6 separate regions of the Homo sapiens genome follow, and all the other regions are linked to region 2. The links come from fine-mapping of genetic effects on gene expression. A gene starts in region 2. Each other region holds a variant in brackets. All regions are shown on one strand. Distances are between the middles of the regions.

Region 1 (5,028 bases), 40 kb after region 2:
GGTTGAGAAGCTGCAAAGTAGCCATGGTAGGCTCTTGAGTTAGGGGGCTTAGGTTGTGTTTGAGAAATTGATGTCCTTACATTAATGGCAGCTCCATTTTTTGCCATTTTTTGAGCGCTAATGATGTATTAGGTGCCACACACACTGCTCTGTGCGGGGGCTGTCATTGTTTCCCTTTTGGCCTTATAGTACGAATGAGGAAACTAGTCTTGGAGCCCAAAGACTGGGCCTTTACATAAACCTTTCCGGTGTTGTGGCCTAATCTAAGAGAATGTGAAGGGAGACTGTAACAGACTTGGTTAATTATCTATCCAGAATGCAGGGAAAATGGGAGTCAGTGGTATGGCGGTGACAGTTTACTGGATGGAAGGGAGGAAGAAAGGAGGATGGAAGGGAGGAGGAAGAAGAGTAATTTCAACACTCTTTGTATACCAGGCACTTTCTAAGTGTTTTACATGCATGAGGGGGAGTTACGTAAACATGCGCGCGCACACACACACACACACACACACACACACACACACACACACTTACTTTTGCAGAAGAAGAAACTGGGGCTTAGAGTCTGTGTTCTCTTAAGGGGCTATCTGCAGCCCTGATTTGTTGAGGCTGTGCTAGGGGCCTGGGTTTGTGGTCATAGGTCTTTTATGTACATTATCTCATTTAATCCTTACAGCGAGTACTTTTTGCAAAGTGGTACTCTTTTCTTTTTCTTGTTTCTTTTCTTTTTTTTTTTTTTTTTTGAGATGGAGACTTGCTCTATCGCCCAGGCTGGAGTGCAGTGGCGTAATCTCGGCTCACTGCAACCTCTGCCTCCCAGGTTGAAGCGATTCTTCTGTCTCAGCCTCCCGAGTAGCTGAGACTACAGGTGCACACCACCACACCAGGCTAATTTTTGTATTTTTAGTAGAGACAGGATTTCGTCATGTTGGCCAGGCTGGTCTCTAACTCCTGACCTCAGATGATCCGCCTGCCTCGGCCTCCCAAAGTGCTGGGATTACAGGTGTGAGCCACTGCGTCCGGCCTGCAAGACGATATTATTTTCATCATACTGAGGGGGAATAATCACTGAGGCTTGGGGACTTTAACATCACAGACCTTGCGAGGACAGGAGTGAAGGTTTAAACCAAGTCTACCTGGTTCTGGCTGGTGCCTGGCACATAGGAGGCATTTATGACTATTTGCAAATCTGAAAGACACTCTGGCACATCTGAGGAGAATGGGCTTTTAGGACTAAAGGCAGTTTTTGAGCTCATTGGTGCAGTTATTTCCCTGCACACCCCTGCCTCTTCTTGGCTAGGGTAACTGAGAAGCTCTTGTTCCGAGAAGCTCTTGTTCCAAGAATCTGGAGTCCTTGGGAACTTTCCCCTCATGGTGCCCTGTTCCTGCTAGGACTTCAGTGTGGCTTTGTCATGCCTTCCTTCTTCCCCGTCACTTTATCTCTGCAGAGCCACTTGCCTGCCTGGGGGCAGTTCTTGCCACGGGACTTTGGGTGAGGAGGTCTGGCTCAGTGACGTTCTTCCCTGTGGCCCTGGTCACATTCCCCCTGGGTGGCCACAGGCCAGTTCCTGGGAACTGCGTCATTCCTGCTGCCCAAAGTAAGGGCACGTAGTGGAATGACAGGGCATCTGTCTCAAAGCAGAGTTCCTGGAGATTTATGGCAAGAACTGAGCATGGACTCTTAACTCTCCTTCGCCTGAAAGATCACATCCTGCCTGACAGTCTTGGCTGAAGATTCTGGGAAAGAAGCAGCTGCACTTTGGAAACTTGGAATCTTGAATTAGGATGGGGTCAGGAAGGAGATGTGTTGCAGCTTTTGACCCAGGTCAAAGGCTCCTGACACACACAAGTAGATTTTTGGGCTTCTGCCAGAAGGGTTGCACCTCCTGCTTGGCTGGCTCTGCCTCGGGCGTCTGGGGCTGGAGCAGGGAGAGTGTTGCTGATCTTGAGGTTTTCTTTTCTTTTTTCTTTTTAGATGGAATTTCGCTTTTGTTGCCCAGGCTGGGGTGCAATGGTGTGATCTCGGCTCACCACAACCTCCGCCTCCCGGATTCAAGCAATTCTCCTGCTTCAGCCTCCCGAGTAGCTGCGATTACAGGCATGCGCCACCACGCCCAGCTAATTTTGTATTTTTAGTAGAGATGGGGTTTCTCCATGTTGGTCAGGCTGGTCTCAAACTCTTGACCTCAGGTGATCCACCCACCTTGGCCTCCCAAAGTGCTGGGATTACAGGCATGAGCCACCGCGCCTGGCTTAGGTTTTCTTTTCTGGTGATGCCATGAACCATTTGCATTCAACCCCATTCTGTCTGGCAGGTGGCAGGAAGTCCGCGTGGGGGACTGGTTGCAGGCAGGTCTTAGCCAGGAAGCACTGGGCTGGAGGAGCTGCCCTCCATCACCTTGTTAGTTGGGAGGTTTGTCATGGGCAACTCCCTTTTTCTTATCTCCTTTGCTATTCACAGAGGCATGGCTGAGCCCCCCTTGGTGCTGCTGGGCAGGCAGTGTTCTCTGTGAAGCTAACAGGTGTGGTTTGTCACCACAGCATAGTGGTTAGAGGGGAAACAGGGTGTGGAGTTTGGTTCCCTGAAACCATGATGCTCTTCAGATGTTTCCTTCCTTCTTCTCAACTGTACTCTGCTTTCAGTAAAGTGATTGCATGGACATGGATAGCCCCTTCCCCTCTGTAAACCACAGGCATTCCCTGGCAAGAGTGGCAGAGTGATTAATTTTTCAGTGAAAGGAAATCAGAGCATAGGTTGTGTTTCTGCTACGAGTTT[T/C]GTCGACACAGGCTGGCCTTTTTATGTTGCCTGGTGACGAGGTTTGGGCCCCGGCTGTGCACTCTTGGTGCACCTTCTGTTCCTTTCCTGACTCAGAGGATGCCCCTGCTTTCCTTCCTTTCTTTTCTACTTCTTCCCCAGCCCTTCCAGTTGTGACTTCTATGAAAATCTACCCTGAAGAATCTGATGAAATTATTCATGCTGAGAAGTAAATGACTGATAAGACTTAGAGATTTATGGTCTCTGGGGCTTCAAGTGGTTCTGACTTACAAACATTCCCATAGCTTGGAATACCCTGCTTCCAACCTGGTGGGACTGCATATTCCCAACTCAGGGTTCATCATGCTGTGGGAACCTCTGCACATGTGAGAGACAGAACTACACCCTTTACACTAAGTGGGAAATGCTTAGAAGTGCAGGCTGTAGGTAGACTTTTCATTTCTACCCAGTGGGATGTCCTTGTGGAGTTTAAGCCAGAAGTAAGATTGGCGGATAGAACATGGGAATACAGAACACCCAGTTAAATTTCAGATTTTTTTTTTTAGGTATAAATTTGTTCTATGCCATATTTGGTACATAAGCTAAAAAAATTGTTTACCTGAAATTCAGATTTAACTGGAAGGCCTATATTTTTATTTGCTAAATCTGGCAGCCCTACCAAAAGGGAATTTGTAGTGTTGATCAGCCAGAGAGAGAAAGTAGTTTTGGGGTCAGCTGCCCTGTCTTGGGGTTCCTGAATCCACAGCATGTGGAGCTGTGGAGGAACCCTGGCTCCCACTTTGTCATTCCTTAGCCTGTAGCCTTGAGTGGGCACAAGTGAACACAGACAGGAGAGTTGAGTGATACTAAAAAGCATGCGAATGCTCATGCTGCTGTTCTAGCTACTCCCAAGCCTGGTGTTTCTGGGACGAAATTGAGTTTCTAAGATAAGGAGCTGGGTCTAGTATTTTTTTCTGTCCACCCCAACCCTCACTAGCTTGGTTTTGCTGAGAGCTGGTCAGCTCCCGGTAGAATTCCGAAGGGCTTCATGGGAGGCCACATCAACTGGGTCTCTTCTGAAGAATCTTCTGGAATGTGGGTTCCTCAGCTGTGTCTTCCCCTGTCTTCTCCAGCCACTTCCTGTTTCTGCCTCCCACCAGTTCTTTCCCCTTCTCCATTCTCGATGGCCTTTATTAGTTTGATATTTATTAGTTTCTTCCATTTAAAACTTTCATGGGCATGGGGGGAGTTTACCTTCTCATGGAGGATGGAGCACCTGTTTGCTTCAGTTAAGGCAATGATGGGCTCTGGTTAGGAAGCCTCACTTTGTAGGTTTCATTTTGGGTAAGTGGTTTATTTTTATTTTTGAGACGGAGTCTTGCTCTGTCACCCAGGCTGGAGCGCAGTGGCACGATCTCAGTTCACTGCAAGCTCCACCTCCTAGGTTCAAGTGATTCTCCTGCCTCAGCCTCCCAAGTAGCTGGGATTATGAGTGTGTGCCACCATACCCGGCTAATTTTTTTTTTTTTTTTTTTTTTTTGGGACAGAGTCTCACTCTGTTGCCCAGGCTGTAGTGCAGTGGCGCAATCTCGGCTCACTGCAACCTCCATCTCCCAGGTTTAAGCAATTCTCCTGCCTCAGCCTCCCAAGTAGCTGGGATTACAGACGTGAGCCACCATGCCCAGCTAATTTTTTGTATTTTTAGTAGAGATGGGATTTCACTGTTAGCCAGGGTGGTCTCCATCTCCTGACCTCGTGATCTGCCCGCCTTGGCCTCTCAAAGTGCTGGGATTACAGACGTGAGCCACCGCGCCCAGCCTAATTTTTGTATTTTTAGAAGAGACGGGGTTTTGTCATGTTGGCCAGGCTGGTCTCAAACTCCTGACCTCAACTGCCTTGACCTCCCAAAGTGCTGGGATTACAGGTGTGAGCCACCGTGCCCGGCCTGAGGAAGTGGTTTAAATGGAAGTAAAAAAAGATGCCCTGTGCTCATCAATTCACTGTCAGCCCCAAGTGTATGCCCCAGCCCTTTGTCAAAGCACCACACCCCAGAGAAAGTGCTTGGTGTTATTTCTAAAAGCAGTGGCATATCAAAATCTTCTGAGGTTTTTGCATTCTTTAAGTCTCTTGATCTCAGGGTAAGGCCAGCTTAGTGAAGGTTCTCCTTATGTAGAGAAGGGGGGGTGTCTGTTTTCACACTGACCTGGGCACTCATCCAAGGTGGTAGAAGGTATCTACAGTGGGCCCTTTATTGAGAGCAGCTGTTGGAAGGA
Region 2 (5,028 bases):
GACCTCAGGTGATCCACCTGCCTCGGCCTCCCAAAGTGCTAGGATTACAGATGTGAGCCACCATGCCTGGCCTAGAGACCAGGTCTTGCTTTGTTGTCCAGGCTGGTCTCAAACGCCTGGCCTCAAGCGATCGTCTCTCCTGCCTCGGCCTCCCAAAGGACTGAGATTACAGGCATGAGCCACCACATCTGGCCCCTCCTGTATACTTTATTATTTATATATATATATTTATTTTGAGACAGGGTCTTGCTGTCACCTAAGCTGGGGGGCAGTGGTGCAATCTCAGCTCACTGCAACCTCTACCTCCTGGGCTTAAGCAATCTTCCCATCTCAGCCTCCCAAATAGCTGTGACTACAGGCATGAGCCACCACACTTGGCGAATTTTTTGTATTTTTTGTAGAGATGGTGTTTCACCATGTTGTCCAGGCTGGTCTTGAACTCCTGAGCTCAAGCAACCCACCCACCTTGGCTTTCCAAAGTATTGAGATTACAGGCATGAACCACCATGAGCAGCCCCTCCTGTATACTTTAAGTCAGCTCTAGATTTCTTACCTGCAATACCTAATACAATGCAAATATGTACATAGTTGTCATATACTGTATTTTTTTTTTTTCTAGAGAGCAAGGCAGTCTCGCTTTGTTGCCCAGGCTGGTCTGGAACTCCCGGCCTCCAGTGATCCTCCTTGCCTCAGCCTCCCAAAATGCTAGGATTACAGGTGTTAGCCACCACTCCTGGCCATGTATTTTTAAATATGCATTTTTTTAATTGTTGTGTTTTTTTCCCCCAAATATTTTCTATCTGTGGTTAGTTGAATTTACACATGTGGAACCTGAGAGGCTATGGAGGGTTGACTGTATATAGTACTGCCTGTGGTTTATTTATTTTTCTCATTTTATCTTTAGAAAGACTATTAGGATTAACACTATAGCTGGCCCAGATCTCCAAAAAATAAGACAACAAAAGTCTGAACTGATGTTCTTGAGCAGTTGGCCTATGTCTCATAGATGTATTTTGCTCTTGACCTAAGCTTAAGCAGGAATGTAGTTTGGAGTTTGCCATTTAGAATGGAGAGGATAGGGTTCTGCTAGCTGAGAAGCATTTATCATAGTCAGGGCTGACCCCAGAGTTCTGTTTATTTCAAACTCTGTCTCTCAGTTCATTCAGAGCTAGGATGTACCTGCAAAGTTGGAGGCTCAATTCCAAGCCACCAGAGAAGGTTGGTGGCTCCTGTGTTCCAAAGTGACCCCTATGGCTATCTTGTTCCTGGCTTCATCTATCATTGGAAAACCAAAAGCAACTATGTCTTTAGCAAGGAGCTTTGAAGCACCTCTCACAGAATTGCTGACTCATCCTTGATTTAAAGAGCAATGAACAGGTCTGACCTTTTTAGAAACAAACCATGGCACTACCTCCAGGAGACAGGACAAATTTCCTTTGACAGTGGACTACAGTGCCAGCGTGTATGGGGTGGTGCCTTGCCCAAGGAGTAACCCTCTAGCCTAGTTTCTGATAAAACCACCAGGAGCAGGACTATTTATTCATTTGAGAAGGGGTCTGGCTGTATTGTCCAGGCTGGTGTTGAACTCCTGGCCTCAAGTGATCCTTGTGTCCTGGCATCTCAAAGAGCTGGGATTACAGATACGAGCCACCACGTTGTGCCAGACCCAGGTTTTGTAAGGTGGCTTTGATGATAGGTTCTCAGAAAGAAGCTCCTTTCTCAAGCAAATTTGTCCTCCAAACTCAGAGCCGATGGGCTACAGGCCTCCGTGTAGGACATGTGCACGTTCTGCATTTCTCAAGGCAAGGAGACGTGAGCAGCCATGTGCTCATCTGCTTTGCCAAGGTCATCCTTTGCGTTCCCCTGACATCACAGTGGCCCTGACATTTCATAAAAGCACACACACGTGCCTCTTCAGTTTGGCCTTTTCGGATGCTGTGTCTGCCAGGCCAACTCTGTCTCCCTACTTGTTGATGGTGGGCAGAAAGTCTCACTAATTCATAAATTCTTGGCCAGAGTGTGCCCATCAACAGGGGTTACACTTGCCACCTCCTTAAATCCCAGCTCAATGCATTCTCCATGCTCCTGGCTATTCAGGTAGGACCGCCGCACCTCTGTGTTTCGGTATGGGGCTCGCCCAGAGAGGCCGCAGCCTTCGGCAATGCATCAGTGCACGGAACCTCCGCCATTCCCAAGGTTCGCTCAAGAGGATGAGTGTGCTTTGGGTATAGGGTTTCGGCAAGTCTTGGTCCTGAGGGCCAGGGTCACTGAGCGTAGGCTTCAGAAGGCGACTTCAGTGTGAAAACACCCACGCCTCCCTACCACACAAACAACGAGCCTCGGAGGAGGGCTGGAGGAGGGGACTCCCGAAAGCGGGAGGCTTGCGTTACGTAGTTGAGATATATCCGAGCTGCTAAGTTACAAGGGGGTGGGGGCTGTCCTATTTTGCCACCTTGGAGATGTGGAGGGAGCTGGGGTTTTGCGACGGAGACCTGGATAGCTGGGACTGGCGGCGGAACGCGAGGCCGGGGCGGGACGGGGGCGGAGCGGGCGCTGCGCTGACTGCCGCGGCAGAAAGGGGGCGGCCGCGCCCATTTCCTCTGCTCCGCCGCGGCCGGAGGTATCCGCATCGGCGAGCTGCGTCTCCCGGGTGTCGGCCCCGGCGGCTCCCCGACCGTGCCCGGCTGTGGCGAGGCGGCTCCAGCCCAGCCTGTGGCAGCCGCGACCCCCGGGGCGCTCCGGAGCCCACTGCGCGGCGCGCGTGCCGGCTGCCTGCATGGACGCGGCACTGAAGCGGAGCCGCTCGGAGGAGCCAGCCGAAATCCTGCCGCCTGCCCGGGACGAGGAGGAGGAGGAGGAAGAGGGGATGGAGCAGGGGCTGGAGGAGGAAGAAGAGGTGGATCCCCGGATCCAGGTAGGGCGCGCGGGGTCGCCCCGCATCCGGGCTTCGCGAGGGCTGCTACGGAGGTCGGTGTCTACGCGTACAGCCACTTCGCAGCCCCCAGTAACTGTGGTCCGGGGACTGGCGGCCACATAGGGTGGCAGGAGACGGTCTGTATGCTCCGTTTCATCGTCTCCACAATGAGGAGGCTACAGTGCCCGCGTGGATGCGGCCTGACTCTATTGCGGGGAGTCCCCCGCCGACCCGTAGCAGGATCGGGGTCGGTGCAGCGTGCCTGGTGGTTCGGGTGGATGTGCAACAAAGGGAAAAAGGGGGCGGGGGCGCCATGGTATCCTCGGGGGTACCCCTGCCCGGCCGCGGCACCGCGGGCATGGCACGGCGTCCAGGCTCTGCGAGGAGGTGTCGCCCGCGTGGGCGCCGGGCACCGTGGGCGGGTGGGCGTTGCCCTGCAGCGCGGGCTGGCACCGGTGCCCCGGGTGCAGAGTCCTCACTTGCCAAGGTGCCCGGCCTGAGCCGTTTTCCTTCTCTGATTGATTGTTAGCGAACTGAGCGGCTTATTGTCATCACTGGCTCAACGTTCTGCCTGGCTTGAAATTGCTTAAAACCCTGCTTTTCCTTGTTGTGAGGTTGGGCATGAAAAGAAATCGGGGACAACTGATGCGCAAAGCTGACGCGTGGAGGCGGCGAGGGGATTGGGCTGGCTGGCTGTGCCTCCATTTCCAAGAGAGATGATTAAAAAACAATTTCCAAGCCGAGATCTAGGAGTGACAGTTTCACCTCTTCACCCCTAAGCAAAAAGCAGAGCAAATCCCTTTCTAAGGCCCGTTTTTTTTCTACCTTTTCAATAAATCATTTTTTTAAAAAAATTGCTTTTAAGCATGCTCTGTAATTTCTGGATACCTAATTGGTTTTTTAGTGCACAGATCAATTTAAAAGCTCACTTAACTCAGTGGTTGGGGTTTAAATGAATTGTTTTGTCAGCTTAGCAAGATAAAGATCAGGTGGAAAAAAAATCCTTGCATTAGGAATGCTATTAATTAAAGTAATTGGTTTGGAATAAATCGTGTGTTACTGGTATGGGATTATGTTAGCAAGATCCTTTGTTTGCATAGTAATGATGAGTTAAGTTCATGTTGGATACTTTTTTTACAAAATGTCAGTTTGTAAATGTTTATTGAAAGGAATGGGATTAAAGCTAGTTTAAAACGTCCAGCTAAGTAGGTTGAATAATTGGCAGTGTGAAAAGATTTTCACCCTTTACAGAAAAATAATTCTGGTGAGTTAATACCAGAATTCTGCCCTTGATGATTTCACTGGGTTTATATTTTTGGCTTGGCCTTGCTTATTGTCTTTTATTGTTTTCTAAGCAAAGTTCTTGCTCAAGGCAGATGGTACTGTTTTGATTAGGCCATTAAACCATTTGTAACAGGTGGGGTTTACCTGAAGGCATGTACCTGGAATAGTTGACCTCTGACAAATTCCAAATGTCTCTGAAGACATTGTCAAAAGGGACACCCTCAAGAAAATGGTTTCAGAAATGCCGACATTCATTTGCTTTTCTAGTCAAGCCTCAACTGTTTGCCGTAAGAATTAATTCTGATTCTTCCCTTTTCCTGCAAATTGGGCTGGGGTAATTTTTCAGGTTATGGACTGAGTTATATTGGAAACAAAAGACGGATCCCTTAAGTCTTTTTTTCTCCCTCTTTTCTTCACCAGGGAGAACTGGAGAAGTTAAATCAGTCCACGGATGATATCAACAGACGGGAGACTGAACTTGAGGTACAGAGAGCTGAGTTCCTGTTCTTGGTGAAGTGATGTCACTCACACCGGCACAAGGCTGGTTAATTTTGTCTTCATAGCTGGAGTGTTATTGCTGGACCCCCCTCCTTGGGAGTTGAGCAACAGCTCCCTGACAGAATAAAATACACCACTGAGCTCAACCTGTGGGCGGAACGCATGTGGATCCAATTGCACATGTTGTTTTTCATTATGGAAGCTCCATGGGGCCTAAACCAAGTCTGTGCAGAGCGTTACACAACGCTTAAGCCCCAAGTTTTAATGTGACTGAAAGGACAGGGGAAAATTAGCCGAACTCTTTAATGGAGAATAATGAATGAGCTCACAAA
Region 3 (5,028 bases), 46 kb after region 2:
AGAAGGAGGAAATGAGGAAGGGATATATGTCCCTTCTATTTTAAAGAGTCTACTTGGGAGTCCCAGACAACACATTTTCCATTCATTGCTAGAACTTGGTCAGGTAGTCACAGGTAGCTGCAAGGGAGGCTTGACTTGGAGTCTTTTAGCTAGCCAGGCAAGGTTGTTTTAAGGATGAAGCGGGGAATGGATATTGGGAGCAGCTAACAGACTGCCACGTTGGTACTATAGTTTATCTTCTAGAAAGGCTGTGAGTTAGAAGGAGTTAAAGGTGGGCTTAAGTTACCCACAGAGCAGGCATAAGACTCTTTTGAGCATGGAAATATAGTAACTGCCTGTATCTCTGTATCTACCTGTATCTCCGTATCTATGGTAACTACCTGTATCTCTCTGCTACATCACTTCCCTCCCTTTATGTTGTATGGAAAACCTCCTTTCCCATTCTACATTGTGTTGGAGATTTGTGAGGAAATGCTAGCTTCTCATAAAGTGAGTGTTTTGTAAAGTCACAGAATCCATTCATTCATACTTTAACAAATACTAAATGAGTCATTTCTCATTGTCACTTTTTTGGTGCAATCCCTCATGTCTTACCCAGAGCATTGAAATAGCCTTTTTTTGTTTGTTTGTTTTGTTTTTGAGACAGGGTCTCTCATTCTGTCACCCAGGCTGGAGTGCAGTGGTGCAATCCCGGCTCACTGCAACCTCTGCCTCCCAGACTCAAACAGTCCTCCCACCTCACCTTACAGGTGCATACCACCATGTCTGGCTAATTTTGTATTTTTAGTAGAGACGGGTTTTCACCATGTTCCACAGGCTGGTCTTGAACTCCGGAGCTGAAGCGATCCACTCACTTCAGCCTCCCAAAGTGTTGGGATTACAGGCGTTAGCCACCGCCCCCGGCCTGAAATAGCCTTTCAACCGGTCTTCCTGCCTCCTGAAACCTCCATCCCTCCCTACTGCCTCCCGGCTGAATTATCTTACCAAAGTGAGTTCTACTGATAGTCTTGCTCAAAAACTTTAGTACATGTGATGGTTAATTTTATGTGTCAGCTTGACTGGGCTGCAGTGTCCAGATATGTGGTCAAATATAATTCTGGTTGTTACTGCGAGGGTGTTTTTGGATGACATTAACGTTTAAATCAGTGGACTTAGAGTAAAGCCGATTGCCCTCCCCAGTGTGGGTGGTCCTCATCCAATCAGTTAAAGGTCTGAATAGAGCAAAAGAGGGACCTCCCATGAGCAAGAGGGAATTCTGCAGCAGACGGCCTTTGGTCTTGAACTGCAATGTAAGTTCTTTCCTGGGTCTCCAGCCTACTTGGAGATTTTGAGCTCTGCAGATTTTGAACTTGCCAGCCTCCATAATTGCACGAGCCAGTTCCTTATAATAAATGCTTATATAAACATCCTATCAGTTCTGTTTCTTTGGAGAACCCTGGCTAGTACAGAACATTTCTTCTGTCTCCAGTGTCAAGCCCAAATCTGACCACAGCGCACAAAGCTTTTCACGGCCTGGCCTGGCCCCTCTTGTCTTTCGGCATCTGGACTTCTCTGTGCTGTGGTTCAGTGTACACGCACGTCACTACTCACAATTGCAGGGTACGTCGTGGTGTTCTACTCATGATTTCTGATTACATCAGGGAATGTTTTGCATCATTGCGTAATCCAGTCTTTGCCTGTGACTTCTTTCTTCCCAGACTGACTAGCTCTGTGATGTTCAAAATAGTAGCCATTAGCCACACATAGCTGCTTAAATGTAAATTAATTAAAATTAAACCAAAAATTCATTGATTCACCCTGGCTGGCCATATTTCAAGTGCTCAGTAGCCACACGTGGAGGCTGGCTACTATTTTGGGACGGTGCAGATAGAGAACATTTCCATTATTGCAGAAAGTTCTGTTGGACAGCACTGCTTAGCTTTTACCCTTTGCTGGATTAAAATGAAGGCACAAGTCAATGTAACTTTCATGAACCCTTCCTTTAGCCCCGCTCCCTCGGCTTTTTGTCAGCTCTGCTTCTTTGAGAACTTGAGCGTTATGGTTGTCATCCTCTGAAAACAGACATGTGCATGGGTGCATAAATTATAACTTCATGGTATATGTTGCGTCCCTTTAAATATCATGCATGTCATGTGGGTTAATACCCACAA[G/A]CTAATGCTACATAATGCTTGCTTATATGACAGCTGACACTCTGTACTGCTTACTGCGTGCCTTTTCTCTGCACTTTATATGTATTAACTCACTTATTCCTTGCAGCAACTCTATGAGCTACGTTCTGTTATTATCTGTGTTTTGCAGGTGAGGTAACTGAGGCACAGAGAAGTAAGAAAGTACTCAGGGTCACACAGCTAATGAGTCTAGAAGCCTGAGTCTTGATCTGTGTTCCCAACCTCTAAACCATGGGTCAAGAAGCCTGCCCTGGAACCGTGAGCTCCTTGAGAGCAGAAATTGCATCTTATCCTTTCCGCATCTTCATGTTGCGTGGTGCAAAGTAAAGATGAAAAATGAGTACTTGCTTTAAAGAGGAATGCTTGCAGCCCGGCATGGTGGCTCATGCCTGTGATCTCAGCACTTTGGGAAGCTGAGGCGGGTGGATCGCTTGAGCCTAGGAGTTCAAGACCAGCCTGGGCAACGTGGCAAAACCCCATCTATACAAAAAATTAACTGGGCATGTTGGTGTGCTCCTGTAGTCCCAGCTACCTAGGAGGCTAAGGTGGTGGGATCTCTGGAGCCCAGGAGGTTGAGGCTGCACTGAGCCGTGATTGTGCCACTGCCACTGCACTGTAGCCTGGGCGACAGAGTGAGACCTTGTCTCAAAAACAAAAGAAATAAAAAAGGAGTGTTTGGAATTGACAGAATTACAAAGGCTTAAGGTGTAGTCATTTCAACCCTGAGACATTTGGATTTCTCTGTGTGGATATCTTATCCTTTTTCATTCTCAGTTCCATTGGCTGAAGTTTGTTCCCAGCCATTTAGAGCTGGGAGAAGGCCCCTGAGTTCCTCAGACCTGCTTTGCTTGGCAATACCAGGTGGAAATGAGATCTGCCAGGAACCCGGGCTCACATGGAGAGCCCCTGCCACACCAGTTTGTGCCGATTCTGCCTCCCCAGGCAGGGGCGGAGCTGCTACCCTGGCCCTGTCACTAGGCCATTCCCATCCTTCCACAGGCCCACAGGTGGCCTGAAGTGGTATGGCCTCCGGCAGCCAGAGGGGCCACTAGCTGTGTATGCCCTTGTGCTCTGATGCTGTTTCTGATAGCCTGCTCTGGCCAGGGCCCGCCGGCTGCAGCCATGCCGAGCGTCTTCCCACTTACATGATAATAGATCCCTCAGATTTTTCATATGCTGTGCTTACCAGAAAGGTATGTTTTGCTAATTCATGTTTATATTAGGCCCTCATTTTCATCTGTGTCCCTCTGACCTTGAATTCCTTTGCAGATCTTCTTGCAGGTGATAGTTAAAATTAAGCCAAGTTATGCTGATCCAGAAGCAAAGTTAGATTGGAGGTAGGGGTTTGACGTTTCAGTGAACCAGTTGCTCCTTTGGCTGTGTTTAAGTGTACCAGGCAACAAACAGTGCTGAGTGACCCAGGGAAGTCTGAAACGTGGAGGAGGTGGGAAGAGAAGAGCCAATGTTCCTGGCTACTGGAGGGCTTGGCGGAGCACCTGTTTCTAAGTGCAGCTTCTCTACCATGTTAGTGGTGAGGACTCACGGTGCCTTCAAAGAGTTTGCAGTCTTGTTGAGAAGACCAAGTGAATGGTGAAATAATTCGTGAGATGTATTCCTGATATGTTCATGGCGTTGGGCAGTTTTCAAAGTATTTTTTCACATATACTATTTTATAACGTGGCAAACTGACAAAAGAAGTACAGAAACTTGGTCCTATGAAGTCAGAGAGGGTAAATTCTTTTCCCAGGCTTAATTTCCTGAAGCCCCATTGGGATCTGGGTTATGTATCGCCCAGCTTGGAAGGGGTGAGGTTGAGCGGAGCGGGGAATGAGTTAGATCTTGAGAGAATGGCGTTCATATGACATGACTTTCTGTATACAGTTTGATTATTCAGGTGAGCTTTTACATCACCCTAAGTGGCCATTTTCAAGGATAAACCTGTCCAGATAGACATTTATCTAATTGCAGGAGTCACAGGAGAAAAAAATCGCAAATGCATGAATAACGATTGATCATAAGGGAGTTGTTTGTGGATTATCATTTCTACCATAGCTAGGTACCTTAATTATACAAATATTTCTTAAACATTTGCAGTGTACCAGCCACTGTGCTAGAATATGGGAATTAAATTCAGTAACACAGTTTTGGCTCTCATAAGACTTTCCAGGACACAAGGGGCAATACTGCTGTGACGAGATCCTAGAAATCCTATGTACTATGCATAAAGGAGAGGGCTGTGGGTTGCCAGACTTTTTTGCTGTAGCATCTTAACTCCAAAGGTCCTGGGTCTGGGGCACTCACCAGGCATTCGGTCGTCCAGTGTGTGCTGGTGTCCCTGGGTTTGAGTTGTCCTTCTCTCCTCTCCCTTCACATACCTTTTATGGGTCTCTCCCAGGCTCATAGGCCAAGAGTAGAAAGCTCTGGGCTTCTGAGTTGCAGAGTGAGTTGGTGTTAACTGAAGTCACTTTGTCTAGAGTGGGTGTGTCCTCTGCCTCTGTTAAATGGCATCCCCTGGGACTGAGGCCAAGCTGTTGTGTGAGGTACTGGCTGGCAAAAGACCAATCCTGGCCAATATGGAGAAGCTCTCCAATTGAGAGGCTCCTTTTGTTGATCCCAGCTGGCAGGGAAGGGGCCATTGACAGATAACTCCCCTCCATCATTTATTTTGAGTATTTTCATCTGAGGCACGAGGAATGTTAACGACTTTGAACCCATTTATTTCAAGTGTGTTGGAAAGCAGTCGCCAAATAGAGACTAGTAGCACCCAGGATTAGCTTATGAAAGTTTGACATTGGCGCTTCCAGCCAAGTGGGCAGGTGGTGAGAAAGCTTTACAAATAATCCAGGAAAGAACCCATGCT
Region 4 (5,028 bases), 52 kb after region 2:
GATTGTCGTGCCTCAGTCACCTGAGTAGCTCGGACTACAGGCGCCTGCCACCACACTCAGCTAATTTTTGTACTTTTAGTAGAGACGGGGTTTTGCCATGTTGGCCGGGCTGGTCTTGAACTTCTGGCCTCATGTGATCCACCCGCCTTGGCCTCCCAAAGTGCTGAGATTACAGGCGTGAGCCACCGCACCTGGTCTTGTTTTACTTTTGTTTGCTCATTTATTTGAAATGTTGCCTTTAATGAGGACAACCATTGACAAATATTTTTGGTTTTCCCTATTCTTTTAGTAAGCGTTTTCTTGAGTTTTGTGATTATGTGGAAGGTAAAGAACAAAAGTGATAACTGATGAACCAACGCCTTCAAAAAATATTTCTTTACAACTTTTTATTATGGAATTTCTGCAAAAGTAGAATAATCAGTGGACCACATGTGCCCATCACCAGCGTCAACAATTGTTAACCTCTTGCCAATCAGGTTTCGTCCACCCTCCCCCTCTAGCTTTTTCCTTGATTATTTTAAAGCTGTTCATAGATTTATCACTGCACACCTAAGTATTTAGATATGTATCTCTAACAGGTAAGAACCTTTAAAAGGTCACATTTTTACACCTAACAAAATTAGTTTTTAAATATCATCTAGTATCCAGGCCTTTTTCAAATTTCCCCAGCTGTTTAAAAAAAGTTTTATTGTGATTGGTTTAAAACATTTGACTAGAAACCGTGGTTATTTTTTGTCTTGATAAATAGTATGGATCTCCCTTTTCCCCTCAAATTATGCTATTGCTTAAGCCAGTGACATAATTTCGAGTTTAAAGAAAGAACTGTGTGGTAGGTAAATAGCAAAGCAACAGCTGATTAAGAAATGTATTGAGAAGCAATTTTGTAAACTTTTTTATTATGGAAAATTTGCAAACTTGCACAGCAATAAATAAGATAGCAAAAGCAACATAGCTTGTGGTTAACTAGTCTGCTGCTCACAATTTGCGTATGTTGTTTAAGCCAGATACTGCATTACAGAACTTTCCTCATGGGTCCCTGCTGTAATTATGTATAATTATGTATTTTCAGTACTGTAACTGAGGCTTCCTTGGAGTTAGCAGAGGCCTTGGCATTCCAATCTGAAAAGTTTAGTGACTTGTTCAAGGTTGTAGACCCAAGACAATGGTTATTGTTGGTGCTAGGGATATACTCTGTTCTTCCTGGTTCTCTTGACACAGAATACGGCCTCATAGTGGCTCAATTGTCCTGGTCAAATCAATGCCAGTTTTGTGCAAGGCATCAAAATGTGCTTTTTTTGGGGGAGGGGACCGTGTTTCGCTCTTGTCACCTCATGCTGGAGTGCAGTGGCGCAATCTCGGCTCATCACTGCAACCTCCGCCTCCCAGGTTCAAGCAATTCTCCTGCCTCAGCCTCCTGAGTAGCTGGGATTATAGGCATGCACCACCGCGCCCGGCTAATTTTTTGCATTTTTAGTAGAAAAAGGGTTTCACCATGTTGGCCAGGCTGATCTCGACCTCCTGATCTCATGTAATCCACCTGCCTCAGCCTCCCAAGGTGCTGGGATTACAGGCGTGAGCCACTGCACCTGGCCCAAAATGTTTCTTTTGTTGCCATTATGGTGTGTTAAGATTGGAGAGCTACAGGGGGCTTGTTTGTCCACATGGTGCAGGTGGAACCATGCACTTGGGGAGCAGTTACTGGAGGAGTGGGTGTTATGCTCGCAACCCCCAGGCAGAGAAGTGTGTACCTGTAGAGAGGCAGGACTGGGGGAGGGAGCAACTGGCCACCTGGTTCTTCTGCTGGAGAGGAAGGAGAGAGGTAGGAGTCGGGAGATCAGAGCTCTGCCAAGGGAATCTGATGCCTTCAGGTCCTTGTTCAAGGTTGTAGACCCAAGA[T/C]AATGGTTATTGTTGGTGCCAGGGATATACTCTGCTCTTCCTGGTTCTCTTGACACAGACCATGGCCTCATAGTGGCCCAGTTGTCACTGGTCCAATTGTCCTGGTCAAATCAATGCCAGTTTTGTGCACGGCATCAAAATGTGTTCTTGTTGGGGGACCGTGTTTCACTCTTGACCAGCCTGGCCAACATGGTGAAACCCTGTTTCTACTAAAAATACAAAAATTAGCTATAGCTATAGCTTAGGGGAGGGAGATGCTCTTTCCTCTTCTGGCATCCCAGTTCTTTATACATCCACCTCTCCACTCCTATGCTCCACCCTTGTGACTGGAAACCGGCAGCTACTCATTAACTGCAAAGGAATGTCATGAGGCATAATTACAGAACACATGGACTTTCCCGGCGTGCAATATTCCAGTTCTCTGCCACCGTGCGGCATAAAGCAGGGCTCTCCACTCCCTCACAATGTCAGGCAATGACCAGGTTCGTGGCCTGGGTCTGCATCGTGCATCCCAGTGGAGGATGAAATAGCTTCCCTGATTGGTGTGTGTGTGTCTTAAGAGATGCTGGTGTTTTGTGGGTCCTGGGAATGACAGTGTAGGTGGGGGACAAAGGCAGAGATGGAAGAGAATTGTGAGTGGACGTGCAGGGAGGAAGATACAGCCCTGCTGAGCTCAGGGAAACCCACCGCAGTGGAGGAGCTCTGTGAGTTTGCACACATTTGAAGAATTAAGAGGTGGGGCATGTTGCGTGTGTGTTTTGGGGACAGAGAGAGTGCGAGAGTGTGATGTCGGGGATGGCTGTGTGGCTGGCTGGCAGGGAAGGCAGCTTGGATTGGGGCTGATAGAATACCCAGGCTTGATGCTTTGAGCAGGCCAATTTATTTGTTAGGCTCTGAAGTTTTCTCCTAGAAAATAAAACAATTGGTCTACATTGTCTCCGTCTCCCTGAGCGCAAAGACCCTGTTATTTGGTTCTGTGGGTGAGGAGTCTAGGTTTGGTGGTGGTACCCTGGGGTGCTGTTGTGGGGTTTTTTTCCTTTTGGGTACTGCTGTCTACCCCCAGCTCAGGCCCCTGCCTTGCACCTGGCCAGTCGATTCTCTAGCCGGTGGCACACTGCTAGAGCATGAAGGTGAGAGCGGGAGGAGGATGAGGAGGAATGTGGGCGCACCCTTCTGGCTAGGGTGGGCAGGAAGAGCCTGGCATCTATGGGGTTGCTGCAGCAACAGGAAGGATTTGATTTGGGATGCGTCGTTCCCGGAGGCCTGCTGTGTGTAGCTGGCAGGCCCTGTAAGCTGCTTGTAATTGTGAAAGGATGGAAGTGTGGGGACAGGTCATAGACATCAGTCGGCTAACTAGCCGAGGCACACTGACTCAGGCTAAGTAGTGCCCTGTGAAAACATAAGGCCCAAGACCATCCTCCTGCCAGCTTTTACATGAATTAGGGAGATTCTGTAGGGTGACAAATAGTGCCAGCTTAAGGCAGAGGAACCGGTGCTTCCTGAGTGCAATGGGAAGCCCTCTGGGTGCTGTGTCTGAACATGCGGTGTCCAGAGGTGAACTGCAGGCTGGTGTCTAGTACTGAAGATAAGCAGAGGTGGGCTCAGTGCTTGATGAACCTTCCCTGATGCCCCCAACCGAAACCCTTGAGTCAGACTCACCCCTGGTTAGTCTGGATGACTGTTGGCAGTAGGGATTGTCTTGCCAGAAACTGGGGTCAAAACTTTCAAATATATGCAAAATAGACAACAGTGTAATGGAACCTTGGATGTTTGTCATCCAGCTTCTATTACCAACCTTGGGGCAATCCTGTTTCATCTTTACCCCCACCCCCAGCTCTCCCTTCTTACTCCTAGCTGTATTTTGAAGCAAGTAGTAGCTTTTACATTTTTATTTTTTAAAAGTTCCCCTTTAAGCTCAGGCTGGAACAAAACCGTTTGACCTTGATATTTCTAACCCTGCAAAGCTCTCTTGCTGCTCCGACATATTAAAGGGCTCTGTAGTCTGTCTATGGTACAGCTGCAGGTGCTGTCTCTCTTAAGACTGCCCGTGGTTTTCTCATTTCTCTAAGGGTAGATACATACCATAGATTTCTTGTTTACTTTGTAATATACATTGTTGGGAGAAATAACACTATTAAACTGATAATGGCTCAGACTGTACATGGTAACCTTTGGGACCGAGAAAAAATGATGTCCCCTATGTTTGACAAATTTTTAGATCTTTTTTTTTGTTTGTTTCTTTTCCCGAGACAGAGTTTCGCTCTTGTTGCCTAGGCTGGAATGCAGTGGTGCGATCTCGGCTCACTGCAACCTCCACCTCCCAGGTTCCAATGATTCTACTGCCTCAGCCCCCTGAGTAGCTGGGATTATAGGTGCCTGCCACCAGGCCCAGCTAATTTTTGTATTTTTATTAGAGATGGGGTTTCGCCATGTTGGCCAAGCTGGTCTTGAACTCCTGACCTCAGGTGATCTGCCCGCCTCAGCCTCCCAAAGTGCTAGGATTACAGGCATGAGTTACCACGCCTCACCAAATTTTTAGATCTTTAAGAAACTGATTCAGGAAAATTTTGATAGAAATAATGAAAAACTCCGTGCCACAAGCTACATTTAGTAAAATTTGATATGGATGAAACTGTTCATTCAATCAAATCTATTTGAAATAGAAAGGAATCAATCCTCAGGAGAATAATTTTGACTAAATAAAAATGAAAAATTAGAAGCACCTCGGTGTGAAAAATAATCAAGGAACTAAATGGGCTTAATGGAATTCTCTCCAGAAGATGTTTTCAAAGGAAACTTTGTTCTGAGATAATTTGGATTAAAATATATGCCAGACATCCTCAGGGGTGAAACGGTGCTATCAGAATGGCCAGTTTCTATCTCTGGTCCTCTTCAATGAAGCATCATTCAGGAGTTGAAGGGGGAGTGCAGGATGGGCAGCTTGCAGGTTGGAAGGACTCAGGCAGTCCATGAACTGCCGGTCCCTGGGATTCCTCAGAATATAGGCAGAAAACCACGGCTTTAATAAAGTTGAGAACAGACATCCTTGTCTCTTGTCCATTTTGATGTTTGTCCTGCCCATCCCTCCCTCACTGAGACCCCCCAGGGGTTATTGACCATGTTTTCAAAGGT
Region 5 (4,972 bases), 29 kb after region 2:
TTAAGCGATCTTTCCGCCCTGGCCATAGGCACACGGCACCATGCCCAGCTAGTTTTTTGTTTGTTTGTTTGAGACGGAGTCTCGCTCTGTCTCCCAGGCTGGAGTGCAGTGGCGCGATCTTAGCTCACTGCAAGCTCCGCCTCCCGGGTTCACGCCATTCTCCTGCCTCAGCCTCCCAAGTAGCTGGGACTACAGGTGCCCACCACCATACCTGGCTAATTTTTTTTTGTATTTTTAGTAGAGATGGGGTTTCACCTTGTTAGCCAGGATGGTCTCGATCTCCTGACCTCATGATCCACCCGTCTCGGCCTCCCAAAGTGCTGGGATTACAGGCATGAGCCATGGTGCCCGGCTGCCATTTCTCTTTTTTTTTTAAACTCATGCATGTGTCCTTCCTTCCCCTAGGTGTGGCTTTGTCAGGCAGATGCCTGAGGGAGAGGTAGAGGGGATGTGGGGTTTGAATCACTGACCTGATCCCTTCCAATAGGTCCTCCTAGACCTGGGACTAACTTATTTAATTTTTTTTTTCTCTCCTTATACCTCTTGGATCTGGTTTCTTGACTTTTACAACATGATTAAGCCTTGCACAGTCCTTCTTTGCCTTCCTAACTCCTATCAAGGTCCAAGTTGCTAGTTGCTGTCGCCAGGATGGATGGCCACCCTTATCTCTTGCCATTCTCCACATTCCAGACCTCCGGCCTCCTTCAGTTTCTTGCAGACACCATGCTGTTCCCATTCCCCTCTTATCTGGACACAGGCTCTGCTGCCTGCTTGGGACTCAGTATTTTCCTCCCCTCCCCCAATTTCCTATTCATGCTTTGGACTTCTGTTTAGATAGTACTCCTCTGGAAGTTTCCTGTGACTCTCCCTCTAATACATGGTCTGGCGCCATTCTTCCCTGCTGAGTTCCATGGCGACTGGACCATTCCCACCCTGGCACTGACTTTTCTGGAACGGGCTGTAATACCTACCTCACCCACCAGGCTGTAAGTGCCCTGGAGACAGGGCCACGCCCAAGGCCCAGCACCAGGTCTGGCATGTGGTAAATAAATAAATAAATTTGCACTCAGTGTTTAACATTGACAGCATCATTTGGACTGAAGCTGTCAGAGATGGCTGGACATTCTTCCCCAGATAGAGGTTTGGTCAGTGTTGAATCTATGTCTCTGATTAAAGTCCTGAGCTTTGACAACATGCTGTCCAGAGGTCCTGGACAAAGCTTTTTAATCTATACCGTGCTATGCAATATAGTAGTTGCTAGCCATGTTAATTAAAAAATTTTAAATATAATGAATTAATTTTTTTTTTTTTTGAGACAGTGTCTCACTCTGTCACCCAGGCTGCAGTGCAGTGGCACGATCTCGGCTCACTGCAACCTCTGCCTCCTGATTCAAATGATTGTCCTGCCTCAGCCTCCTGAGTAGCTGGGATTACAGGTGTCCCCCACTATGCCCGGCTAATTTTTGTATTTTTAGTAGAGACGGGCTTAATTTCCAAAGGGTCCATCCTACCGATATCTCCCCCACAGTGCACAGCATGTTGTGCACATACACAGTAGGTGCTCAGAAACTTTGCGTTGTTGTTGCTTACTAAGCTTTTTTTTTTTTTTTTTTTGAGACAGAGTCGTGCTCTGTCACCCAGGCTGGAGTGCAGTGGCATGATCTTGGCTCACCACAAGCTCTGTCTCCTGGGTTCAAGAGATTCTTGTGCCCCAGCCTCCTGAGTGGCTGGGACAGCAGGTACCTGCTACCACGCCTGGCTAATTTTTGTATTTTTAGTAGAGATGGGGTTTTGCCATGTTGGCCAGGCTGGTCTCCAACTCCTGACCTCAAGTGATGGGCCTGCCTCGGCCTCCCAAAGTGCTGGGATTACAGGCGTGAGCTACCACACCCGAGATGATTAAAATTAAATAAACTAAAAACTCCTTTCCTCAGTCACACCGGCCAGTTTTAAGTGCTCAGTAGCCACACGTGGCTGGTGGCCGCCACACTGCACTGTGCAGAGCACAGGACGTTTCCGCCGTGGCAGGAAGCTGTTTTGGGCGGTGCTGCTCTAGACACTGTCTTGTAAAGGTGCTACTTTAGGGGTCTGTACGTTGGGTAAAGTCCTTTGTTGATGTTTCTGTCTAGGTCCAGTAGGTGTTTGCAGATCCCTTCTTAAGCCTCAACTGTGTTTCCTCGGTTTCCCCTGGCTGCAGGATGCTCGTCAGAAGTTCCGCTCTGTTCTGGTTGAAGCAACGGTGAAACTGGATGAACTGGTGAAGAAAATTGGCAAAGCTGTGGAAGACTCCAAGCCCTACTGGGAGGCACGGAGGGTGGCGAGGCAGGTAAGATAGCCCCATAGATGTCTCCCCTACCTCGAGCCTCACTACCCCTCAGTTTTAAGGGTGCCTTTGACTGTATCACCTGCTGAAGGTTAGAAGCTCGAGTCCAATATGTCTTAAATGCAGTGACCCACCGCCCCGCAATCTGCTTCATTCCAGTGCTCGACACTATTAATAGGGTGTGAGTGCTGGCATTTGGATGACCCTGCAAGTGGGTGCTCTCCCTGAGTTGGTGCTGAGTGCACTTAAGGGGACGTGTCCAGAGGGTGTTCCTCCTCCGCTCCTAATGACAACCTGTCAGACAGCAGTAGGAAGATTCGCTTACTGCCTCGCGTTCGCCTCACTCTTGGGAGTGTTTAGCCTTCTGCTTCTCTTGAAACATCGGTTCTTCTTCTTTTTCTTTTTTTTTTTTTCCTTTTTAAGATTTGGCAGGTGAGTTGTTATACACTCCTTAGCGGATTCTGACTTCCGTGGCCATCGTCCTGCTGAAACTTTGGTTCTTTGTCCTGAGAGCCCAAATAAGAAGCAGTGAAACGGAGACCAGAAGGGGAGTGG[C/T]GGAGGGGACTGTGATCAGGCGATTGCTGGGGGCTGCGTGGAAATGGGTTCTGGTTTAGGAGTTGGTCTTCCTTTGGCTGCTGTGTGACGCGATGTGCCACTTGTGTCACCTGCAGCCTCTGATAGCCAGGCCCTGTGAATGGGGAAGGTAAAGAGCCCTCAACAGTTACTAGTACCTGCTGTGTGGCAGGCTCTGGGCTGGGGGCTTTATTCACCTTCCTCAGCCTGCTTCGGCTTCCCGATTAGAGAGCTAATGTGAATCACCAACCCTGTGATGCCTCTTGAGATGAGAGTTCAGATTTCCCAAGAAGATCTAAGCAGTTGGTCCAAATTGTAGTTCACTAGCAAATGACCCAGTGCTGTCCCTGTGGTGTGTTTATGACATGATGGAAGATGCTGCCTTCAAAAGTGTCCACTTGTAAGAAGATGTTTAGTGAGGCTGGGCATGGTGGCTCACACCTGTAATCCCAGCACTCTGGGAGGCCGATCACTTGGTGGGCAGATCACTTGAGGTCAGGAGTTCGAGACCAGCCTGGCCAACATGTTGAAACCCCTCTCTTCTAAACATACAAAAATTAGCCGGGTATGGTGGTGGGCGCCTGTAATCCCAGTCACTAGGGAGGCAGAGGCATGAGAATCGCTTGAACCTGGGAGGTGGAGGTTGCAGTGAGCCGAGATCGTGCCACTGCACTCCAGCCTGGGCGACAGAGCACAAATGTGTCTCAGAAAAAAAAAAAAGAAAGAAAAAATGAGAGAGCAACAACAATGCAAAGTTTCTGAGCACCTACTGTGTATGTGCACAGTGTGTTGTGCACTGTGGGGGAGATATCAGTAGGATGGACCCTTTGGAAATTAAGTCCCAGAAATCTAGGAATATATTAAGATAGACCCATAGAGAATGAGGGCCAGGACTTAACCATTCCTCTTCTTTTTCCTATTTCCATGCACCTCTCATTTCTCTTCAAGGGAGCCCCTTGCTGCTTTGGGAGTTCTACCAAGATCGTACCTGTGTGTTTGGGTTTTATGCTCTGAACCCTGAGCTGAAGTTCCTGGTTGGACCTTGCCAGATATGTTGCCTTTATTCCTAGACAGAGTGGCTGCCTGAAACCCTTCTTTCTTCCCTGGCCTGGTGCATTGGGCTGTATACTTCAAAGTTCTGATTGCTCGTTGGTCTGCACAAGCCCTGAGCAGCAGCCACTCCCTTTTTCCATCTCCAGCTGGGCCCTGCCCAGGCCTCTAGAATTCCCGGGAGAAGAAACCCTTCTCCAAAAAGCACTTTCCAATTCCCACAGATTCCAGCACCCTGAGGCATTCCCCCTCCAAAGTGTCCACGTTGGATTAATCTTTGAGATGCCCCCCAAGTTGAGGATGTGTCCTACCCACTGTAGGCCAAGGTTGTATCATTCTTGACCTGAAACGGAAGTATGGAGGGTTCAGGTTAGGTTTGAGGAGAAGCTTCTGAGGATTTAATTTAAACATTGGATAAATATCGAGGAATTCAGAAAACCTCCTTTCCTGAAAGTCTTTAACACTGGGATTTATGGTTCTGTGATGCCATTTAGCCCACGCGTATCTATTAAAAGCAGCCCACGTGCCCATGCTGCAGAGTGATTGAAGGATGGTCTGTTGAAGCATCCCACTGGAGTCGCGGCAGTGGCTTCTCTACCTGAAGTTTTCCTTGTCTGGTCCCTGAGCTCAGGTTTGGGGGCAGAGATGGCTCTAGGGGGCTTTGTGTTGGGGTTTCTCAAGGCTGGTCCTCTGATTCAGGTCACTCCCTTGGCTGTGCTGATGTGAAACGTGCTCCTGCCTCAGGTCTTTGGACTTGCCTTTCCCTCTGTTTGGTGGTGTCCCTCTGTTTGGCGATGTCCTGGTATTTTCATAGCCCGATTTCCTCATCTTCAGGTTTCTGCTCAAATGTCTATCCCTTTATCCATGAGGCCTTCTCAGGCTAACATTTAAAATGGTTAACTCCCAGCCCACCATCCCTGCCAGCCCCAGCCCCCATGCCTTGCTTTCCTTTTTCCCTGTGGGGCTTCTCCCCATATGACCTGTTATAATTTACTTGTTTACAGTAAGTGAAGCTCAGCAAGGGCA
Region 6 (5,028 bases), 29 kb before region 2:
GTGCGTTGCATTAAGCACATGATTTACAGCTGTGATGGTTTAGCATTTGCTCTGCTACTTGAGATAATGGAGAGCAGGTTCTTTTAACTCAAGATACAATCGATCCTGGGAGAGCAACGAGCAAGGAGCCAGCAAGTCTAGACACATTCCAGAGCCACGAGCCCTGGAGTCTATCCAAGCCATGAGGGATTTTATGCCCTGGGCTTAGATTATGTTGTGCCAGGGCAGCCTTCCACCCTTTAGCACAGAGCTTGGTGTTCCAAAGGCCACAAGGAGTTTTAGACCATGGACCCTGGACACGTTCCAAGACTCTTTTACATTATGTCAGACGTGCAAGCCCTGCCTCAGCTTCTCCCAACACTCAGCTTTTCCCAACAGCAAGACTCCATCTCAAAAGAAAAAAAAAGAAACAGAAAGTTAATGAAGGTGGAGGTTGCCTCTGATGTCTATCTTGAAAGCATCCAGCCATTTGGTCAACTCAGCCTATTCCTGTCAGTGTCTAATGACAGAGAATTGACACTTTTATGGAGCCCATTCTCACGTGTAATCACTCCCATAGAATGGATGCATATACAGTTGGATATTTGGATAACAGCTCTGAATTGCACAGATCTACTTAACCGTGGAGTTTTTACCACCCATTGTGGATGGAAAATACAGCGTTCATGAGATGCAAACCCCTGTAAATGGAGGCCTGTTTGTATACGCAGGTTCTGCAGATCTGACTGCAGAGCTTGAGTATGCCCAGATTTAGGTATTTTGGTGTACTCAGGGGTCCTGGAACCAGTTCCCTGTGTATACCAAAGGAGCACTGTATTGCTGTGTCACAGTTTGGGGGAACATTTTGATAAGTGCATTTCAGTATAATTGGTTTCCTTTGTAATCCTATGTGTTTTCTTTTATGCACTTAAAAATACTATTCTGGCTGGGCATGGTGGTTCATGCCTGTAATCCCAACACTTTAAGGGGCCAAAGCAGGAGGACTGCCTGAGTCCGGGAGTTTGAGACTAGCCTGGGCAACACAGTAAGACCTTGTCTCTACTAAAAATAATAATAATGAAAAAATTAGCTGGTTGTGGTGGTGCGTGCCTGTGATCCCAGCTACTCAGGAGTCTGCGGTGGGAGGACTGTTTGAGCTCGGGAGGTCGAGGCTGCACTGAGCTGTGTTTGTACCACTGCACTCCAGCCTGGGTGACAGAGCCAAGAAGTTGTCTCAAAAAAAAAAAAAAAAAAGTACTATTCTGGGAAAGAATCCACTCATTATAGAATTCTTCACCCAACCACCAAGGAGGTTCATTGCTCAAAGCCTTCAAGCATTTGAAGATGTTACATAGACCATCTTCTTTCCTTTCTCTACACATGGTAACCCCCAAATCAAGCAGGCAGCTCTCAGATACCCTCACATGCTCAGGGCTGTGTCCTTGAATCTGGAACCAGGCTGCCTGGGCTGGAATCCCAATTCCAGCATTCTAGCCCTTGGATTAGAAAGGGCTAGAAAGCACTGGGATGTTCTTAAACACCACCTTTCTAGCCCTATGCCCTTGGTCAAATTAGTTTAAATGCTCGGTTTCTCCTCTGTAAAATGAGGACAGTAACAGCACTCATCTCACGTGGTTGTTGTGAGAATGAAATCAGTTACCGCATGTAAACCTTCAGCAGTGCCCTGCTCTCTGCCATGGCGTGTTTATGGAATGTTAATAGCATGAGGCGGGAGGCGGACAACCTCAGGCGAACCTGCTAGAGGGCACCCCCTTGTGTATGACTCTGATCACTGTGGTTTCTTTTCTCTGGGTCTGAGTCAGACACAGAGATTTCTGTTAAAAAGTAGCAATAGGAGGCTGGGCACAGCGGCTCACACCTGTAATCCCAGCACTTTGGGAGGCCAAGGCGGGCGGATCACCTGAGGTCAGGAGTTCAAGACCAACCTGGCCAACATGGAGAAACCCTGTCTCTACTAAAAATACAAAAATTAGTCAGGTGTGATGTCAGGCGTGTGGAATCTCAGCTACTCGGGAGGCTGAGGCAGGAGAATTGCTTGAACCTGGGAGGCGGAGGTTACAGTGAGCTAAGATCACGCCACCGCATTCCAGCCTAGGTGACAGAGTGAGATGCTGTTTCAAAAAAAAAAAGTCAAAGGATCCCTTTAAAGTCTATTCCTATCTAAAATTTTGTAGATGTCTTAGTTCGGTTAGCCCAAAAGTGGACCCTGAGGCAAAGGATTTTGGGCAAATCATCTATTTAAGAAATGATTCTAGGAGGCAGAGTAAGGAAGTGAGACAGGGAAGAGAGAAAAGCCACATAGGGCACATTGCCGAGCAGGATACCTCAGAGGACAACTGGGCCGCAGTCCTGTGAAGGCCCCTCTGAGAGACTGTGCAGCGGTGAGGAGGCTGGCGGGTGGACTCACCAGCTCCTAGCCCTCATCTGTTGAGGCTGTCCTGGGGTGTTACCTCCCAGCAATTCTGGCCAGTCCTGTGTGTGGGCTCAGAGGAGCCCTCAGGCATTGAAACACAGGCACGTGAGGGAAGAAGCCAGCAGGGACAGCAATTGTCTTCCAAAGCTGCATCTGA[C/T]AGTGCACTGACACAGTTCGCTTCAGTGGGGGATGGCTGAGCTAAACACGGCTGTCAATAATAAGCAAAAGAGACATGAAACGTTAGTTTTGACTTAATTTGATTAAAAACGTAACTGAAAGAGGTTTGACCCCAGCCTGGGTCTTTCAACTTCTCCTTCCTCCCCATACCTACTAATCACAGTCTGACTTTCACCGGGTGATTCCTTTAGCAATTTATATGTGGTTTCATCTTTAAGGATGTGCTTATGAGAAGCTCCAGCCACCCACGCTTCAAAGTTCACATATGATTAATGGGTAAACTTTTCAGTGGTTTGAGGAAGGTAGTCAGAAGATACTCATTATTTTAGTATCTGCTCATTAGCAAGGAAAATTGGCTTCCTAAAGTGTTTCTGTCTTTTTTTTTTTCCTGTTATTTAAACAAATAGCATGACTTGTAATGCAAAATCTTAGGACCGTGGGATGTTAGATTCATCTGGTTAGAGTTCAGTATAAAGTAGAGCTGTAAGAGCTTGCATTTTGTTAAATAAATGAATGACTGTCTTGTTAAATTCCATAAAAAGCAGTTACCTCTGTTCAGTTTTCCAGGTGAGAGTGTGCATGCTGGTCAGCAAGTTTATGATCATTACTTTTAAAAACATTTTATGGTAAAGAAAATGAAATACAGAATGCCACATTTGTATCTACACTATGAGTACATAATGTATAAATTATGTAAGTTTATAGACAAGAACAGGAAGGTAAAATGAGGAAATGAGTACTTTTGCCAACACAGTCAATTTTCTTTTAAAAACAAGGAGGAAAGAGAGATGAGCAGTATCCTTAAAATCAATCCCAGTGTGACATGGAACTTTCAGGGTGTTTTTTATTAACCTTGGCAACTTTTCTAGGCTCAGATCAAGTTACTGAGGAATTTCCCCAGATTTTCTACCACTCATTTTTGTTTTCTCTAAAAGTAGGCTGAAAAATTGAGACTGCCAAGAAAAGCACAGTGCATAAGAATGAACCTCAAAAACAATATGCTAAAGTGAAAGAAGCCACAAAAGACCACATATTGTATGATCTAATTTATATGAAATTTCTAGAAAAGACAAAACTATAGATATAGAAAGCAGATCAGGAGTTACCTAGTGGTGGCTGAGAGCAGGGATAGAATACAAATGGCACAAGGAAAGTTTTTAGGGCAATGAAATTGTCTTAAACAGAAATGTGGTGATGGTTGCATGACAATAAATTTAGTAAAACTCACCAAACTGGATTTTATGATATATACATTATACAATAAATCTGTTTAAAAGAGAGACTGAGGCTGCGTGTGGTGGCTGACACCTGTAATCCCAGCACTTTGGGAGGCTGAGGCAGGCGGATCACTTGAGATTAGGAGTTTGAGACCAGCCTGGCCAACATGGTGAAACCCTATCTCTACTAAAATACAAAAATTAGCTGGGCATGGTGTTGTGTACCTGTAACCCCAGCTACTCAGGAGGCTGAGGCACGAGAATTGCTTGAACCAAGGAGGCGGAGGTTGCAGTGAGCTGAGATCACACCATTGCACTCCAGCCTGGTGACAGAGTGAGACTCCATCTAAAAAAAAAAAAAAAAAAGGGCCGAGCACGGTGACTCATGCCTGTAATCCCAGCACTTTGGGATTACAAAAAAAAAAATGGCCTCCTGATGTTTCTTCCAACAAATTGTCTTCCTGAGTACTTACTATATAGACAAATAGCAGCAGCACTGTCCAACAGAAATACAATGGGAGCCACAGATACACTTTTTTCTTTCCAGAGATGAGGTCTTGCTCTATTGCCCAGGCTGGAGTGCAGTGGTGTGATCATAGCTTACCATAACCTCAAACTCCTGGGCTTAAGGGGTCTTCCCACTTTAGCCTCCTAAGTAACTGGGACTCAGGTGCATGCCATCATGCCCCTAAATTTTTTATTTATTTTTATTTTGTAGAGACAGGGTCTTGCTGTGTTGCCCAGGCTGAAGTGCAGCTTGCACCATCATGGCTCATTGCAGTGTTGACCTCCCAGGATCAAGTGATCCTTCTGGCTCAGCCTCCCGAAGTGCTCATATTACAGGTGGCCACTGTGCCCAGCCAAAACAAATTTTTTTTAATTAAAAAAATTGTAGACCAGGTGTGTGGCTCACGCCTGTAATCTCAGCACTTTGGGAGGCTGAGGCAGGTGGATCACTTGAGGTCAGGAGTTTGAGACCAGCCTGGCCATTGTGGTGAAACCCCATCTCTACTAAAAATACAGATATTAGGCAGGTGTGGTGGCATGCGCCTGTAATCCCAGCACTTTGGGAGGCTGAGGCTTGAGGATCACTTGAGGCCAGGAATTCTGAGACCCACCTGGCCAATGTGGTGAAACCCTGTCTCTACCAAAAAATACAAAAATTAGCTGAGCGTGGTGGCATGCGCCTGTAGTCCCAGCTGCTCGAGAGGCTGAGGCAGG

Evidence for each region. PIP is the estimated chance that this variant, and not a neighbour inherited with it, causes the effect. A credible set is the group of variants that fine-mapping cannot tell apart.
Region 1: its variant is the best candidate, but not a certain one, in a credible set for the expression of SH3BP5 in tibial artery (GTEx, PIP 0.52).
Region 3: its variant is the best candidate, but not a certain one, in a credible set for the expression of SH3BP5 in whole blood (INTERVAL, PIP 0.74).
Region 4: its variant is the best candidate, but not a certain one, in a credible set for the expression of SH3BP5 in spinal cord (GTEx, PIP 0.56).
Region 5: its variant is the best candidate, but not a certain one, in a credible set for the expression of SH3BP5 in whole blood (INTERVAL, PIP 0.56).
Region 6: its variant is the best candidate, but not a certain one, in a credible set for the expression of SH3BP5 in B cells (Schmiedel 2018, PIP 0.65).

What each region holds. Positions count from the first base shown.
Region 1 is chr3:15,289,793-15,294,820 of GRCh38, reverse strand. All of the region lies in intron 3 of SH3BP5 (SH3 domain binding protein 5), which reads left to right. Among named protein-coding and RNA genes, the nearest start is that of SH3BP5-AS1, 38 kb to the right of the region's middle. The variant T/C (reference allele first, on the strand shown) is at 2,777.
Region 2 is chr3:15,330,157-15,335,184 of GRCh38, reverse strand. SH3BP5 (SH3 domain binding protein 5) reads left to right here and starts at 2,599. Exons shown (of 9, transcript NM_004844.5): 1 at 2,599-2,914; 2 at 4,619-4,681. The coding sequence starts at 2,777. RefSeq lists silencers at 2,491-2,890, 2,971-3,030.
Region 3 is chr3:15,284,353-15,289,380 of GRCh38, reverse strand. All of the region lies in intron 3 of SH3BP5 (SH3 domain binding protein 5), which reads left to right. Among named protein-coding and RNA genes, the nearest start is that of SH3BP5-AS1, 33 kb to the right of the region's middle. RefSeq lists a silencer at 869-1,044. The variant G/A (reference allele first, on the strand shown) is at 2,151.
Region 4 is chr3:15,278,285-15,283,312 of GRCh38, reverse strand. All of the region lies in intron 3 of SH3BP5 (SH3 domain binding protein 5), which reads left to right. Among named protein-coding and RNA genes, the nearest start is that of SH3BP5-AS1, 27 kb to the right of the region's middle. The variant T/C (reference allele first, on the strand shown) is at 1,897.
Region 5 is chr3:15,301,457-15,306,428 of GRCh38, reverse strand. SH3BP5 (SH3 domain binding protein 5) reads left to right here. Exons shown (of 9, transcript NM_004844.5): 3 at 2,198-2,326. Among named protein-coding and RNA genes, the nearest start is that of SH3BP5, 29 kb to the left of the region's middle. The variant C/T (reference allele first, on the strand shown) is at 2,879.
Region 6 is chr3:15,359,398-15,364,425 of GRCh38, reverse strand. No RefSeq gene overlaps it. Among named protein-coding and RNA genes, the nearest start is that of SH3BP5, 29 kb to the right of the region's middle. RefSeq lists a silencer at 1,847-1,906. The variant C/T (reference allele first, on the strand shown) is at 2,571.